Linked DNA regions of Homo sapiens. The protein of the gene in region 2 interacts with the protein of the main gene of each other region in a pairwise test. Each region holds a gene or a part of one and is shown on either strand. Other genes may lie near its edges.

What was found. The genes of interacting proteins can lie anywhere in the genome.
Region 1: the proteins of NANOS1 (region 2) and PUM2 interact in a two-hybrid assay, tested with the Homo sapiens proteins (one study listed by BioGRID).

What each region holds. Positions count from the first base shown.
Region 1 is NC_000002.12:20,349,363-20,353,107, forward strand, and holds the start of PUM2 (pumilio homolog 2), read right to left. Parts: upstream 1,483-3,745; 5' UTR 1,235-1,482; intron 1-1,234. UniProt on the Homo sapiens protein: Sequence-specific RNA-binding protein that acts as a post-transcriptional repressor by binding the 3'-UTR of mRNA targets.
Region 2 is NC_000010.11:119,027,698-119,031,442, reverse strand, and holds the start of NANOS1 (nanos homolog 1), read right to left. Parts: upstream 1,730-3,745; 5' UTR 1,642-1,729; coding exon 763-1,641; 3' UTR 1-762. UniProt on the Homo sapiens protein: May act as a translational repressor which regulates translation of specific mRNAs by forming a complex with PUM2 that associates with the 3'-UTR of mRNA targets. Capable of interfering with the proadhesive and anti-invasive functions of E-cadherin.

The sequences.
Region 1 (3,745 bases), on a different chromosome or scaffold from region 2:
CTACACAATGCAATTTCACCAAAAATCGGAATTTTAAAGAAATTCTTGCAGCACGGAAAATGCCATCATTTTTATTCATAATGATTGAGCAAATGAAGTAAATCATTGTTTAAAAGGAGGCTAGGAAGAGAAACAAGTTGAAAATACTCATTTTTGTTTTTTTTTTTTTATTTACAGGATTCCTTAAGTCATCTTCCAATACTCCAGGTCACATGGTGAAGAGTCACCTGTTAAACACGAAATCTAACCATTAAACAAGCTTTTAAAATCCTTCGGTAACTCCCTTTATTAAAATTGTTTTCTTGACATACAGTACCTTTACAGGTATTACATTTCTCTTCACCGTTTACAAGCATTTTTCTCATGTTTTCCTTCACCAAAACATCTGCCCCGTTTTCTCAACAAGTAAAAATCTCAAAGTACTAAGTCCTAACATGATGTCTTATTGCACCTAATATGCTGGCAATACATTCCTCTCTTCAAAAGTTTACGTATGTTAGAATAAAAAGCTAAGTTAAGTAGGTTTTCTCTGGCTGTGTTTTCAGAAACAACACTAACTTTTACACGTGTTTGGGCATGAAACTTTAAACATTTTCCCCAAAACCTGACCCAATTCAGATACAAAACTACTGCTCAAATAGTAGAAGCCGCTAATCTTGTCTTTGGTTTTAATTTACATATTTTTCTGAATATCGAAATCCGTTCCTATAACCTAAACAAGGCGAATCCAAGTCACTGCTTCATACCCACATCTGTCCACGGCAAGCTTTTCCCGGACACACTCGGGCCTTTGAAAATGCCCACACTTGTTTTCATAAACCCACTCCTTCCTCTTCACCCACTTGCAATCCGCATGCTTCTCTGGGGCCACCCGGCCTCTCCCCTCTTTCCGAACCCTAGGGCCGACAGCTCGGTCTCTAACCTCCAGCGCGCCGAATCGGAGGGAGAACCGGGTCGGCGCCCCACGCCCCCGAGGCGGCGGCCCCGCAGAGGGAAGGAAGCGGGAAAGCGGCCGGCGCGGCGCCCCCTCCCCCGCACGCGCACACCCCCTTCCGGCACCCCTCCCCCTGCATTGTGCGAGCGGGCCCCAGGCCGCACCGGCCCGGGCACTCAGCAGGCCCTATCCGCCCTCCCGCTGGCGATCGGCTCCCGCCGAGGCCGCCGCACAAAGCCTGGGGAGCCATCCTCGACGGCGCCAAAGGACCGGAGAAAGAGCGAACGCGGACTGACTTACAGGGCTGCTGCGGCCGCGCTGCCTCAGCCGGGGACACCGACCGTTGGGCACACGGCGGCGTCGCTCTTGGCGGTCCTCCCCCTCCTCCGCCTTCGGTGGCGGCAATGTCTTCTTTCTCCACCTACCACCCTCCCCCCCCACCCCACCTCCTCCTTCTCCTCCCCCTCCTCCTCCGAACCACCGAAGTACCGAGGGTGAGACACAGAGACTCACAACAACATGGCTGCCACCGCCGCCTGCCCTCCCCTCCCCCCCGCCCACCGGGCGCGCGCAGTGCACCCCGGGAGAAAGGGGAGGGGGAGCGCTCACCAAGGCGCGGCTCCTTTTAATGCCTTGCGTCCCTGCTCCCGCGCTGCCGCCGCGCGGGCCGGGGGCGCCCTGCGCGTGCGCACGTTCTCCGCGCTCTCACGTGTTTGGCCGCCTCTCCGGCGTGCCCTCCCCCGCCCTCACCTTGCGGGCTCGCGCTTCCCTCCTGGGCTCCGCCGCGGCGGGCTCGGAGAGCGCAGGCGTACTGTTGCCAAACGCTGTGTTCGACTGTCTTCCCGCGTGGGGCCTCGCCTTCTGAATCTTCTTACCCTCGGCTTCCTACCCGGTTGCTCACTGTTTTCCCCCAACTGGGTGTGCGGGTGTCTGCGCCCGCGCCGCCCACCGTGGGGTACTCCTGGCATTTCGCTTCCAGAGTGCTGGCGCCCACAAGAGCCGGACGTTAATTCAGGCCTTTAACTTTCACTCTGTACCTCCCCACAACCAGACGAGGGAGATGCATCTGGGGGTGGAAGATTGTACCCTGCGAGAGGGCTGTCACTCTTCTCGTGGTTGCACCCCAGGCAGGTGGAGCCAGCTCTCAGCAAATTGTCGGCCCCCAGTGCTTGGTCCCGGTGCACACAAAGGAAACTCAGGTCGTTCTCCAGCTGGGCCAGTGATTCTCACTCGTTGGCTGTTTCTTTTTCTCGCGTACTAAGCGCTCTCTCCTTCCCCGTTTACAGGCTAGTTGGAAACTCCAAATCTGCCTTGCTGTCCTGGACCCCCATGCAAAGCAGTGGTGATTCCAGGATTCTAACCTAACCGGCTCCAGGTCACACAGCTGTAACAGGCACCGTGTCCGATTTGTTCTTGATGGTTTGTTTGCACAGCTCCTGGCTCTCCTGACATGCTGCACTTCGTAAATATTCAGGGCCTCCCGTATAGTTTGCTTAATATATGTCTTCCCTAGGCGACTGTGAGCTCCACGAGGGCAAGGACCTTGTGTTTTGTTTCACACTGTGCCCGCAAGTGCCTGTTGAATACACATGGGCTCTTCGGTTTTTAACTATTACTGAAAAATGTCTGACATTGAAATCCATCCCAAGCCCCTACCTTAGGCTCATATTTCAGGCTTCTAGATATTTTCACTTGAATTTTCTTGTCACCAAGCATGTTAAAAACTGAAGTCACACCCATCCCCTACCCCCCACTCTTGTACTGTCTCTGTAATTGGCAGTGTCACCACCTATTCATTCCCCAAATTACACCTCTGAGAACCATCCTTGTCTCTTCCTCTTACCCCGACTCCAAATATAAATAACTTACCAAGCCTCGCAGATTTTTACTTCCCAAGTAATTCTGGAGACAGTCTTCCTCTGCCTCCTCACTAATGCTAGCCTTGCTTCCCAGGTCTGGATTTCTGTAGCTGGCTCTTAATCAGCTTTCCTGTCTCCAGTCTCACTCCCTCCAATCAGTTCTGCTCACTGCTATCTAAAATGCAAATCCAATTCCTGGCGCTCAGGCCTCTGCTTCAACCATCTCATTGCTCCCCATCACCCACGACAGCATTTCCCTAGTGTGCTGTGTTCAGTGTTAATAGATGTTCCTTTAAGAAATGTCTCACGATCAAGTAAGAATGGGAGATGCTGGGGTGTACACATTTTGCCTTCCTTCTCCTTTCCCCTCCGTTGAGCTGATAATAGCAGAAGAGTCTTTATATACAGTTGCTTAGTGTGGGTGAAACTAGATAAATCCATCACAGGCCCTCCCTTAGAATATGGAATTGGGACTAAGAGACCCCAACCTCGAAAGTCTCTTGGACCTGGGATCCCTTGGGCAGACTGGTTCCATCCTGTAAGACAGGGAACCTGTAGAGAAAGAGTGGAGTTGAGAGAGAAAAGGAGAGTGCTGACAATGTCTCTCTTTCACATGTTTCTGTGCCTGGCTGGCTGCCTCTACCCTTGGAGTCTGAGCCGCATTCCTGGATCCTTATGGTAAATTCTGCTTCTTTGCTTAAGCTAGATAAAGTGAATTTCTGTTACAACCAAGAGTCCTACTAAAAGCCACGTGTAAGCTATAGTTATTTGTTTGGTACTAACAACATGCAAGCACCAAAGCACTTTCCATACATTGTCTCATTTAATGTTCCAGATATCCCCATGAACAAGGCCAGCTTCAGCACAGGCACGTGACCTGTGCAGTTGAACAAGGCCTGGGGGGTGCCTAAAAAGATTCTACGATTGGTTTAATGCTCTGATGTCACCATCT
Region 2 (3,745 bases):
ATGACTTGGCACAACTTTTAAAGGTGGAAAAGGCTAGTTGCTAGTTCAGTAATAAAATACCTGGTACATAGAACGATAAGGAGCTGTATTCTACCTGCTACACATTGTGCATTTTACACCTCCAGCTAGGACAGAAACAAGCCACAAGCGGGGAATACCCGCCCAAATTAATACTGGAAAGTTTACAAAACCTTCACTTCTCATAAGGGTGATGCTACCAGCGGCTTGCTTCACCTGGAATTAGAGTAACTGATTTTTAAAGACAACTGAGAATATTAACTCGCTTCAAACAATAAAATAGTCATTTTGCCGACATTTCATAAAATCGCCAGTTTTAAGCTCAGTTCAGAGGCTTTTAAAAAAATATTCTAGACCTAGTAAAGTGCCTCCATTCATAAAATGAAACATCCAAGATTGAGACAATTTCATACTGATGCGCATCTAAAATAGGTCGACGTATACAGTAAATAAACAGCGCCTCTAAGTTGCCATATTTCAGTTAGTGGAATACACACCCAGCCTTCGCCGTTCTGGATGTGCAAACTAGAAACTGAAGACAAATGGGGATTTCAGCGTCTAGTCCCAATCGTTCAGCACGGAAGTACTCCACACGGTCGGCTGCTTTTCAAAAACCACCAGGACGACGTCCCATGTCGAGCCGACCGCTGAGCCGCACGCCTCCCCACGGCGGGGGCGAGATGGTGCGCAGACCTAGCGGTGCGAGGGGCGGCGGCGACCCTGGGCGGCCGGGAGCCCGGGCCTTCAGCGCAGCTTCTTGCCAGGCGGGCCGTCCCTGGCGCTGCGGGGCGGCGGGCGGGCGGGCGGCGGCGGCACTTTGGAGAGCGGGCAGTACTTGATGGTGTGCGCGTTGTCGCCGCTGGCGCCGCACAGGGGACACGTGTAGCGGCGCAGCACGGGACACAGCACTCGCCCGTCGGGGCCCTTGAGGATATGGGTGGTGTAGAGCGCCATCGCCTCCTTGTTGTTCCGGCAGAACACGCACACCTGCAGCTCGGGCTTCAGCAGCCGGGCGGCCGCCGCCCCGGAGGCCGCGTGCAGCCGGGGCTCGGCCGCCCACGCCGGGGCCCGCTCCTCGCGCGGCGTCGCCTCGCTGGTGGTGGTGGCGGCGGCGGCGGCGGCGGGCGCGCAGCCCAGCAGCACGGCGGCGGCACGACCCGCGAACGGGCTCAGCTCGGCGAAGCGCTCCTCCAGCAGCCCGGCCTCGGCGGGGCCCGCGCACAGCTCCAGCGCGCGCAATTCCAGCGCGCTCCCCAGGTAGCGGCCCCGGGACCCCGGCTCGTCGCTGTCGTCGTCGTCGTCCTCGTCGTAGTCGGGCGGCCCCAGCGCCGGCCCCAGCGCCCCAGGCCCGGCCCCCGTGTGGGGGGAGCAGCAGGACGACGAGGAGGAGGAGGGCGGGGAGCCGCCGCCGCCGTTCCCACCGCGGGCGCAGCCGAAGCGCGGCTCGCCGTCCACCGCTTTGGTGATGAGCGTGGCGAGCCCCAGGTAGTCGTTCCAGGAGCTGAAGGGCTGCGGGTGCGCCGGGCCCGGGGCGCTCACGTAGCGGGCGCTGGGCACGAGCGCCATGGGCGGGGGGGCGCGGCCGCGGCGGGGCGAGCGGGGCGCCCAGGGGAAAGCCTCCATGGGCGGGCTGCGGGCCGCGCGCCGCCTCCCCGCCGCCGGCGCGGGCCGGACGGAAGGGACACGCCGAGCCTGCCCGCCGGCCTGCCGCGGGGTGGGGCCGCCGCGCCGCCTTTTATCGGGCCCACTCCTCCCCGCCCCCCGGCCTCGCCGCCGCGGCCCTGCCCCCTGCGTTCCCCCGCCCCGGCCACCTCGCCCGCGCCCCGGACGGAGGCGGAGCGGAGGCGGGCTGGCTGTGTGCGCGCTCCGCTCCAGCCCGCGCGGCTCCCGCGCCCCGCGCGCTGCGCCAGCCTCGCCAGCTGTCGGGCGGCCTTCATTCCGGGAGGGGGCGGGCGAGGCGCCGCCTCGAGCCGTGGCGCTCATTGGCTGCAGACCAGAGCCCCCCGGCGCCTCGGGCGCCGCTCCGGACGCTGATTGGTGGGAACACGGGGAGGGGGCGTGTTCTCCGCGCAGCTGGGAGGTGAGGAGAAAGTAGGGGAGAGAAGGGCCGGGAAGGGAGGGCCGCTGGGGCCCGCATTCGAGCGCCGGGCCTGGGCTTGGAGCAGGTGACCAGGCCTGGGTCTCCTCGGCCTGGTGGTGAGGCCCCCCGAGGACAGGGGTCAGGGTGGCCACAGGTTTACGCCCCCACCTCCCAGCCTTTAATGGCCCTAGGCCCTAATCCTGAGAATCCCCGCTATCCACCCCCTTCTCACCAACATCAGCATGAAAAGCTGGACGCGTTGGAAGGATGCAGCTCTCCCATCACAGCCGCCCAACCAGCCAGTGGCTTCCGTTTGCACCGCGCGTTGGAGCGCTTTCCCCTGGGCGAAATCCATACAAACCCTGAGGTTCGGGGAGGCTGTGGTTCCTGCCGCGGTAAGAGCGGAGGGACGCAGGACTTTCCGGCTGCACGCAGCAGCCTTCCTCCCAACAGGTGCTCAGGGACTTCAGCCAATGGGTGGCCGATAGCCGGTTACTTAGGTCGGGGTTGGGGCTGGGCCGGAAAATCTCATGGCTGGAGAGCCTAGGACAGTGACTGGGATGTGTGTGTGTGTGTGTACCCCCTCGCCCCAGAGGCCTGAGTCAAAATGTGGGTTGTATGTGCAGTTTGAAAAACAACGTGTATTCAATGTTATATTTTGTCTTCCTTCCTTCCTTCCTTCCTTCCTTCCTTCCTTCCTTCCTTCCTTCCTTCCTTCCTTCTTTCCTTCCTTCTTTCCTTCCTTCCTTCCTTCCTTCTTTCCCTCCTTCCTTTTCTTTCTTTTTTTTTCTTTTCTTTCCGCATCCCGGGTTCAAGCAATTCTCCTGCCTCAGCCTTCCAAGCAGCTGGGATTACAGATGCCCGCCACCATGCCGGGCTAATTTTTTGTATTTTAGTAGAGACGGGGTTTCACTATGTTGGCCAGGCTTGTCTTGAACTCCAGACCTCGCGATCCGCCTGCCTTGGCCTCCCAAAGTGTTGGTGTTACAGGCGTGAGCCACCGCGTCTGGCCTCTTTCTTTCTTTCTCACTCTTTCTTTTTTCTTCTTGATTTTTCTTTTTTCTTTTTTTTTTTTCTTGAGACAGGGTCTCACTATGTTGCCTAGGCTGGTCTTGAACACCTGGCCTCAAGCGATCTTCCTGCCTTGGCCTCCCAAAGTGCTGGGATTACAGACATGAGCCACCACACCTGGCCTCAACATTATAATTAAATACTTTGAAATGAATAAAACATGTTGTGTAAAAGCCATGGAGAATAAGAGCCAGAAGATGAGTTTTGATTAGGAAGATGGCAGGTGGTCTTACACTTCCCAACTTTTTTAAAAATTGAAAGTAGGAAAGGCTTTAGATACTGAGGGCTCTTCTAGGATGAAACCTAGAACTGGGATCAGGAAAATGCCTCCCCTGGCAGGTGGGCCCTGGCAGGGTGGGCTTCATGGGGCAGATGGGGCTTTCCTTCCTCACTCTGGACCATGCAGTGGCTGTGGAAACAATGAGCCCTCACTAGGCCTGAGGCCACACTCACAGGTCTTGGCTGTGCCCAGCAGGTTTAGAATGGCTCAGCAGGGGATGCCCAGAACCTAGTGCTGGCATTGGTTAATATTAGAATGAATGAATGAGGGAATCAGAATGTCAGCATGGGAAGGGA